2 separate regions of the Homo sapiens genome follow, and region 2 is linked to region 1. Evidence: fine-mapped expression QTL. A gene starts in region 1. The other region holds a variant in brackets. All regions are shown on one strand. Distances are between the middles of the regions.

Region 1 (4,230 bases):
TGGAGGCTTCACTACATAGGCATAATTGATTAAACCCTTTGGCCACTGGTGATCAACTTAATCTTCAGCCCCTCTCTCACCTCCCTAAGCAGTTAGGGGGTGGGGATGAAAGTCCCAACCTTCTAATAATTCCTTGACCTTTCTGGTAACCAGCCCCCATCCTGAAGCTACTAGGAGCAGCCAGCTAGCTAAGACAAAATTCTTAGTCAATTCATTAGCATACAAAAAGGCAAAATGGGGCCCGTAATCCCAGCACTTTGGGAGGCCGATGCAGGAGGACTGCTTGAGCCTAGGGGTTCCAGAGATACACAGGAGATCAATCAGACCAAAGTGAAGACTGGAAAGAAACTGATTTCTACCTCAAAAGAAAAAGCTTTTTATTTATTTATTTTTTTTGAGGTAGAAACTGAGGTAGAACTGTGAACTTTATATTTAAACAAGCTTTGAAAAAGAAAAACTTACTCTTCTGAAATGGCAAACCACTGGTACATATACTACTTTTTGATCAAAGGCAATATCAAATCATGCTGTTAAAGCAAGATCATCTGTTCCCCTTTCAATGCCAATTACATATATACATTGACAATAACTTTTTCTTTTAAAAGCTTTGTTTTGGTTAACTACAGATCCATGGCATGAGAAAGAACCCTAGTCAAGATTCTGTCTTAAAAGGAGGCTGCTGGATTATAGAAAGTTCATGAGCACAGAGACTGTCTCTCTCTTGCTCTCCTAGGCCTAGCCCAGCGTTTGACACATAGGAAGACTTGAATGAATGAATGACAAAAAACTGTTAAGCAGGGATCAAGAAAGCTGAACCATGAAAAATTAATTTCTCATATAAATAGGATTATTTAGCCTAAGCTTAAGAGCATCTTTAAGGATCATTTTTCTCATGCAAGACTATTATAACCATCATTAAAAAAAAGAGACAACATAAACTGGAGCACAATCCATAGTAAAACCAAAAGCTTAATTCTCAACATTTGAGAACTTTGAGAATCAGAAAAAGGATTTCAATCTATGAAACATAAAATCTGGTGATGGAGAAAATGGCTGTCAATCTCACCTAACCTAGGGAAAGAAAGAAAATGTAACCATGAGTTTGAATGCACAAGTGACAACACATCAAACTTTTACCAGCCCCTAGAATTATGCTTCTTTTAAACCAAAGAATAGCAAATACCATTAGCACACTGCATTCCATGAGTAAGTTAATTTATAAGAAACCTATTTGAAATGACTGCCCAGTACTCACAAAACCTCCCTAGCACCCACATACACATTTATTTATTTCAAAATGACATTATAGGCTCCTTGATTGCGAAATTCACCCACAATCCATCACGGTCAGCTACCTATTTACTTTCCAGTGTGTTGGGGGAAAAATATGAGGAAGATTTCTTTCCCCAAATCTACGTGAAGAAAACGAAGTTATCAAGGCTTTGTAACAGAAAAAAAGAAAACAAATTACCCATGCATGGGACAGAAAAACCTCATCTGGTCACGTTGTGGCTTAACACTTGGACAATATGTAGCTTAGGTTAAGTTTTCTATCCCCAACCCCACCTACAAACTCTAGGAATGGGCGGTATTGTTGCGAGACCCCGGACTCGACCTCATGCCACTGAAAAGGATGACAGGTCGGGACTTGCCCCGGAGGCAGGAAGAGAATCTCTGGCGGGTCGCGTAGCCCGCCTCGCCGTCCCCGCCTCCAGCCAGCTCCCCTGGCCGCGGCGACCCTTCTCGTCCTCCCACCTCCACCTCCACCTCCTCACCTCTCGGCCTGGCTCACGCGTTTCCCATCACTCTGTCAGCTCCTGCCACCGCGCCTTCTTCCCTTTCGGTTTTACTTTAACTTCCCACGCCGGGTGAGGAGCTGAGCGCAGGGCCAAAGATGCGAGCGGGCAGCTGTATCGCCGCGCCCCGTCCGCCCTCCAAGCCGCGCTTGCCGGGGTCGCGCCCAGTCACAGGGAACCGCGTGTGAGGACCATCAGTCAGACAGACAGACGCAAAGACGCACAGACCCGGCGAGGAGGGACAGAGTGGAGCTGGCGCCGGCCTACACGTCACCGCCCCGCTGCAGCGCCAACGTCGGCACGTCGACTCGTCGACTCCGGGCCCTCTGCCCCGCCCGCGTGCGCGCGCCGCTCCGCCTCCCGCCTCCAGCCTCTAGTCCGCTGGGTTCGGAGGAGCAGAGGCGGAAGGTCCCGGCGGCGGCGAGGATGCGCCCCAGGGCGGGAGCGGGACGCTCCACTTTACCCTGGCTGCCCGCAACGGGCCAGGCCTGCCGTCTCTACCTCTCTACCTGTGAGTTTTTTCCCTGCATTTACTTCAGTCTGCCGCGTCTTCTCCCCGCCCTTCTCTGTAAGGTAAATATGTGGAGGAAATAATTCCTATTAAAGGTAAAGGAAAGGAGAGCAATTTGAATGAAGAAACAGGTAGTTGCTATCGTCGTTTTCAGCCAAAGCCCTCTGGCTGCTAGAGAGTATACATGGTTCTCTGGTGTCAAGGCCTGTTTTCCATAAGCTTTCTGGATTCTCAGCTTAGTTCCCTCAAAGTGATCTCTGCAAGTCGGCTCTTCGGTCAGAAGACCTCCTCCAAAAACAGAAAGCCCAAAGATTCCCTAACTCGATTGAAAAGATAGGAAGATACGAAGAAAAACTAACCTAAAGAATTGTGTGGTTTATCTGCAAAGAGTTCTAGACTAAAAGCCAACAATGCAAAGATAGTATGAGTTAATATGTTTGTTGTGGCTCTCTTCTGCCATTCCCGCTTCCTCAAGGTAATGTGCCCCGATGCCTGGTAGAACTGTTTTGTAGAGGCAGCCAATAGTGATCCAGTTATTGTCTTTACTGGTCAGACCACCTCTGAAGTGCTGTGTTCAGCATTTGAAGACTTTAATCAAGCTGGCATTATATCAGGGAAGAGCAAAATGATGACGAGAACTCAAAAACAGGGCAAGTGAAGAAGGATTGATTAAACCTTCCAGGACTCACCTAGAAGAGAGAAAACTACTGGACTCTCTCCAAATATGAAATGACCTATCATGTGAAGTTGATTTGTTTCATGTGATGCAAACTTCAGGGAACAGATTTAAGATCCTGAAAAGAAGATGCCCTTGTAGCACGACCCAAAGAATTGCCTACCTTAGCATGTGTGAATACCTCAACCACAGAATTTTGCTTCAAGGAGATTCTGAAGCTCACTTAATAGGGACTTGGTACAGGGGAGCCACACATCAACAGAATAATTAGTTGATGGTTTTGTTAAAGATATTTCCAGTCTTGAGATTACATGTGTCTTTGGTCCTGGACTTCATAGAGTTTACAAGTTAGTTCATGAGACAAGACAAATGCATCACAAAAATAAATAATGCAAGGAGGCCAAGTGATAATGAGAGGTGCTGATAAGTGCTAGGAATTCACATGACAGATTATTCCCATCACAGTTCCAGAGGCTTAAGGGAGAAGAGAGGAACTGAAAATAGACTACCTAGAACTGCCCTATCCATTGGGGTAGCCACCAGTTAAATACGTCTCTTGACATTTGAAATGTGGCTTGTCCAAACTGAGACATGCAATGAGTCCAAAATGTACACCAGATTTCAAAGACTTAGAAAACAAATGTAAAATATTGTAATTCTTATGTCGATTACATGTTGAAATAATATATAATGGATCAAATAAAATATGTTAAAATTAATTTCAACTTTATTTTTACTTTTTATGTGACTTCTAGAAAATTTTTAATTACATAGGTGGCTTGCATCATATTTGTATTACATAGTCCTGGCCTGGAAGGAAATTCAGTTAGCCCTCTGTATCCATGGCTTCTGTATATGTGTCAACCAACTTTGGAACAAAAACAATTGAAAAAAAAAAAAAAAAAGAATGGTAATGTCTGCATTGAACACGCACAGACTCTTTTTTTCTTGTCATTATTTCCTTAACAATATGGATGTAACAACTGTTTACATAGCATTTCCCATTGTATTAGGTATTATAAGTAACCTAGAGATGGTTTAAGGTATATGGGACAATGTGCATAGTTTGTATGCAAATACTATACCATTGTGTGTAAGGACTTGAGCATCCTGGGGTTTTGGTATGTGGGAGTGTCCTGGAACCAATCCCCTGTGGACACTGAGGGATGGTCTTACTTCATTGAACTCTAAGAGCTATCTTTGTCCTCTTTATAGTCCCCAGGGTTTCCCCATTTTTTTTTTCAAGA
Region 2 (4,230 bases), 29 kb before region 1:
GCCTGGCCAACATGGTGAAATCCCGTCTTTACTAAAAATACAAAAATTAGCTGGGTGTGGTGCCACACACCTGTAATCCCAGCTACTCGAGAGGCTGAGGCAGGAGGACCGCTTGAACCTAGGAGGCGGAGGTTGCAGTGAGCAGAGATAGCATCGCTGTACTCCAGCCTGGGTGACAGAATTGAGACTCTATCAAAAAAAAAAAAAAAAAAAAAAGAAGGAAACATGACTCCAGTATCATTATTCACAAATCTTCCACAGCTTACTATAGCTTGATCCAAGCTCCTACACTGCCAGAAGCTGACCCCAGCATTTTATTTTCCAGTCTTATTGGCTATTATATATTTCCTGCTCCAGCCAAAAAGAATTTCTTCACCAAAAACCACGTTCTACCCCACTCTATGCCTATTTCTATATCATACTGATTCTTCTTCAAGGCCTCTGATTGTTCAAATCCTACCCATGTTTCAGAATATAGCTCAACTACCTCTTTCAAGATGAGTACAACGTTGAGTACATTGTACAAATACAATGGTATTGATGACAATACCACTGTAGTATTCCTCACTGTACTTAGCCCCAAATAGGTAGCTCCACAAAGATTAGTTGATTTAAACTAGACCCAGGCCTCACTGACACCAGATTAGTATTTTTATACTACATCAAACTGCCTGAGTCACTTTTTACTTTATCTGCTATTCAATCATGTGTAGAAGATTAACAGTTTATAGGTAGGAAAATAAGCAATTTTACAATGTATATTTCCAATTTGTTCAAGTATGAAGTCTACTTTTACTGTTATAATTTACACAATTATCTGACATACAATTATTCTTTTAGTATTTAAGAAAATATATGAAAATCTATAAATAGTGCTTTTAAATTAATTCAATAGCATTTATATACATTTATTTATTCATTCTATACATTTTACTTATAACTTGTAAAACAGGATTTGGATAATTTGGGGATTATGGTACTTCTACAGATAATTTAAAGGGGTTGATAGAACTGATACTAAAGTCTGAGCAAAAATGGAATTCACATTTACAAACATTATCTACCATTGTAAATACACATTTTTTGTAAAGATAGTATTGCTAACACTTTGCATCTTGGGATTTTTTTAAAAATAATAATTTACTAAAAACTTTCACATAATTATCTCACTTTGTCCTAACAAAAGTATCTCCATTTTATAGATGTTAAATGGAAACAGAATTTGAGTAATTAGGGAAAGATCAAACAGCTATTACATCATTAAACAAGATTAACATTAGTCTTCTAACTCCTAAACAAGTTATTTCCCCTATGTCACACTGATTCCCTGTAAATTCCTAGACAGTAGACTTATTTCTAATTCTTGTTTACAAAATAAATTTTAAAAATAAATAGGTCACCTTAAGAAATCAAATAGTGGAAGAACAGCCTTATTATCTAATGTAAAAGTGTAATTAACTTAAATATCCATTATTAGGTTACTGGTTGAATTCTGATATAGCCATATACATTCACTAAATATAGTGCAGCAGATTTATATATCTTGCCTTTAAAAAGTCCATTAATAGTGGGTAAAAAAGCTATAAGCCCATGTTTGAAGAGAAAATAATTGTAGACTCACAGAAACATCAACAAAGATCAACTTTTTTGGAGTGTCAAATTTTTAATAACCATTAACTTAAATCTATAATTTCAAAAATCACAAATACTTAAAAAAATTTAAACCTTGCTGGGTTGTGGTGTTTCATAAATGTTAATACTCTACCCTAATTACTAACTCTCCTGCACAACCTATGTGAAATGGACACGTGTTCATACCACAGAACAGTTTTTCAACAGAGAATCTCTATATGCCTTACGGTTCTGGGAGTTCCACCAGCCAACACTATTTGTTAACATGGATGACTACACAACAGAAATAATGACTACGGCATTCTGAAAACAATGAACTTTTTCAGGGCGCTAAAACATCAGATGGTAACTTCCACTTTCACCATCTTCCTGCAACCACCCCGGCTTGTCTTCCCTAAGGGGCAACCACCCCGGCTTGTCTTCCCTAAGAGGCACCGACATGCTTTCCAGCACACTGTCCGCATGAGATGACGTATGTAGGCGTAAGAGACTGGCTGTTAGCACGCTGCCCAGATGAGAGCCCTGATCAGATTGGAGCAGACGAAGGACCCCA[G/A]GTGCTGGGGCCGCAAAGGATGCACCACAGCTTGCTGGTACAGCCCACTCAGTGTTTTTTGGGTGACTAAAATGTATGAAAAGTTTGTAAAATGTAGACAAAGTATCTGAAGAAAACGATGCAGTCAGTTGTCTAATTAGCCAAAGCTATCCAAGGCCCAACTTACCCTCAACAAAAATGTAATTGGAAGGGAAACACTAAGCGAACCTCTATTAGCCGGCTGAACCACCACCCAATTGGCCACATCAGAAGGGGGAGATGGAACGGCTTTGGACAACGCGTGTGGTACACTTCTAAAGTAGAAAGGTGTTAGTCATGTTCTTGTTTTCTGACACTAAATCCAAAATTGAACATGTTACATTAACTGTGAGAATCCTGTTCCGAAATAGCCTTTTGTTCACTTCCCTTTATATTCTATATGTAATTTAATAATAAAAACGATTAGGTTTATGATCTTTGGTTAAGTTAACATTTGCACCCAATTCTTAAAGCTTTTTCTGTCTGCTTCATATCACTCACTGTGGTCACCTTTCAAAGAGGAATCAGGATTTTAAGTTTAGATTTGGCCACAGATAAATTGATACACTAATCAACTGACGAAAAGTTTATATAAGACTTGATATAAAACTTAAGAACTCCAAACTTTTAAAGAAGGTACTCTAGAAACCTACATACTTGGGTATCTAACTTTGTATCCATAAAACACTGAATAACATAAGCTGTAAACCGGAAAACTGGCTCTACCCACCTGGCACTTCAACTGTAATATATTTAAAAGGATGCACTTAGAAGGTCCCTACAATACTTTTATTAAGAAGAAATACTCACCCTACTTTGCAGTTATATTGAGAGGAAATGGGATGTGAAATGCATAGTAAACTATAAGGCACTTCCCAGAATTAAAAAAAAAAAAGTCAAAAGTGAAAGAGGCTTGCCAAAAATCACCATTAAGTAGCAGAGCATGATCAGAACTCAACTTGGCTGGCTGACTGGTGCGCTTTTATTATAAATAATTTTCAAACTTAAAAAACCTTATATAGAACCTTACCATATAAAATGATATATTTGGTAGATTGTTACTATAAGATTATAAAATAATTTTTTAAAATCAAAGAGTTAAATGGTTACAATTGTCAATCATCCTCAACACACAATCTACGTCTGTTTTCTTTTGATTCAAAATATTAAGAATTAAGTGGTTGTAAGTTGTCACTTTTTTCTGTAGCCTACTTTAATAGTTGAGGAATCCTGGAAAAAGGATGAGTAGAAAATTTTAATTAAAGATTGAATTAAAATATCAATCACTTGCATCCATAATTGATAAATATTCCTTTTTTTTTTTTTTTTTTTGAGACGGAGTCTTGCTCTGTCACCCAGGTTGGAGTGCAGTTTTGAGACGGAGTCTTGCTCTGTCACCCAGACTGGAGTGCAGTGGCACAATCTGGGCTCCCTGCAACCTTCGCCTCCTGGGCTCAAGTGATTCTCCAGTCTCAGCCTCCTGAGTAGCTGGGAGTACAGGCACACGCCACTATGCCTAGCTAATTTTTAAATTTTTTTGTAGAGTCATTTCACAATGTGGCCCAGGCTGGTCTCAAACTCCTGAGTTCGGGTGATCCACCTATCTTGGCCTCCTAAAGGGCTGGGATTACAGGCGTGAGCCACTGTACCCAGCCAATAAGTATTCAATTTAGAAGTTGTCAACAAATGAGTTCCCTGACCTGTTAAATCCTCAGAGATTAGCTGATTTTTTTGAATCTGGCAAGTATGATGATGTTTTCTTTTACAAATATGTAAAATACAGGACCTTACCTACAACATTAGATACAACAAAGTACATTATTTAACAAAATACAAAAATGATTCAACTTGAATATAAAATATACCATGTCCCCATAATTTTTCCCTCTATATATTCCTGTTCATTTCCCATTAGTGTAATTATTAAACAAGTACAATATCTAAACTAGTCTCATGAATCTTGCTAATATTTTCCTCAATTTTACAGAAAAACTCAGATACAAACAGATTACATAACATACTGATGC

Evidence for each region. PIP is the estimated chance that this variant, and not a neighbour inherited with it, causes the effect. A credible set is the group of variants that fine-mapping cannot tell apart.
Region 2: its variant is the best candidate, but not a certain one, in a credible set for the expression of ASCC3 in esophagus mucosa (GTEx, PIP 0.82).

The regions. Positions count from the first base shown.
Region 1 is chr6:100,879,286-100,883,515 of GRCh38, forward strand. ASCC3 (activating signal cointegrator 1 complex subunit 3) reads right to left here and starts at 2,044. Exons shown (of 42, transcript NM_006828.4): 1 at 1,776-2,044. LOC107984041 (a long non-coding RNA gene) reads left to right here and starts at 2,172. Exons shown (of 8, transcript XR_007059692.1): 1 at 2,172-2,369. RefSeq lists an enhancer at 1,888-2,007.
Region 2 is chr6:100,849,905-100,854,134 of GRCh38, forward strand. The region is part of intron 3 of ASCC3 (activating signal cointegrator 1 complex subunit 3); the gene reads right to left. Among named protein-coding and RNA genes, the nearest start is that of ASCC3, 29 kb to the right of the region's middle. The variant G/A (reference allele first, on the strand shown) is at 2,186.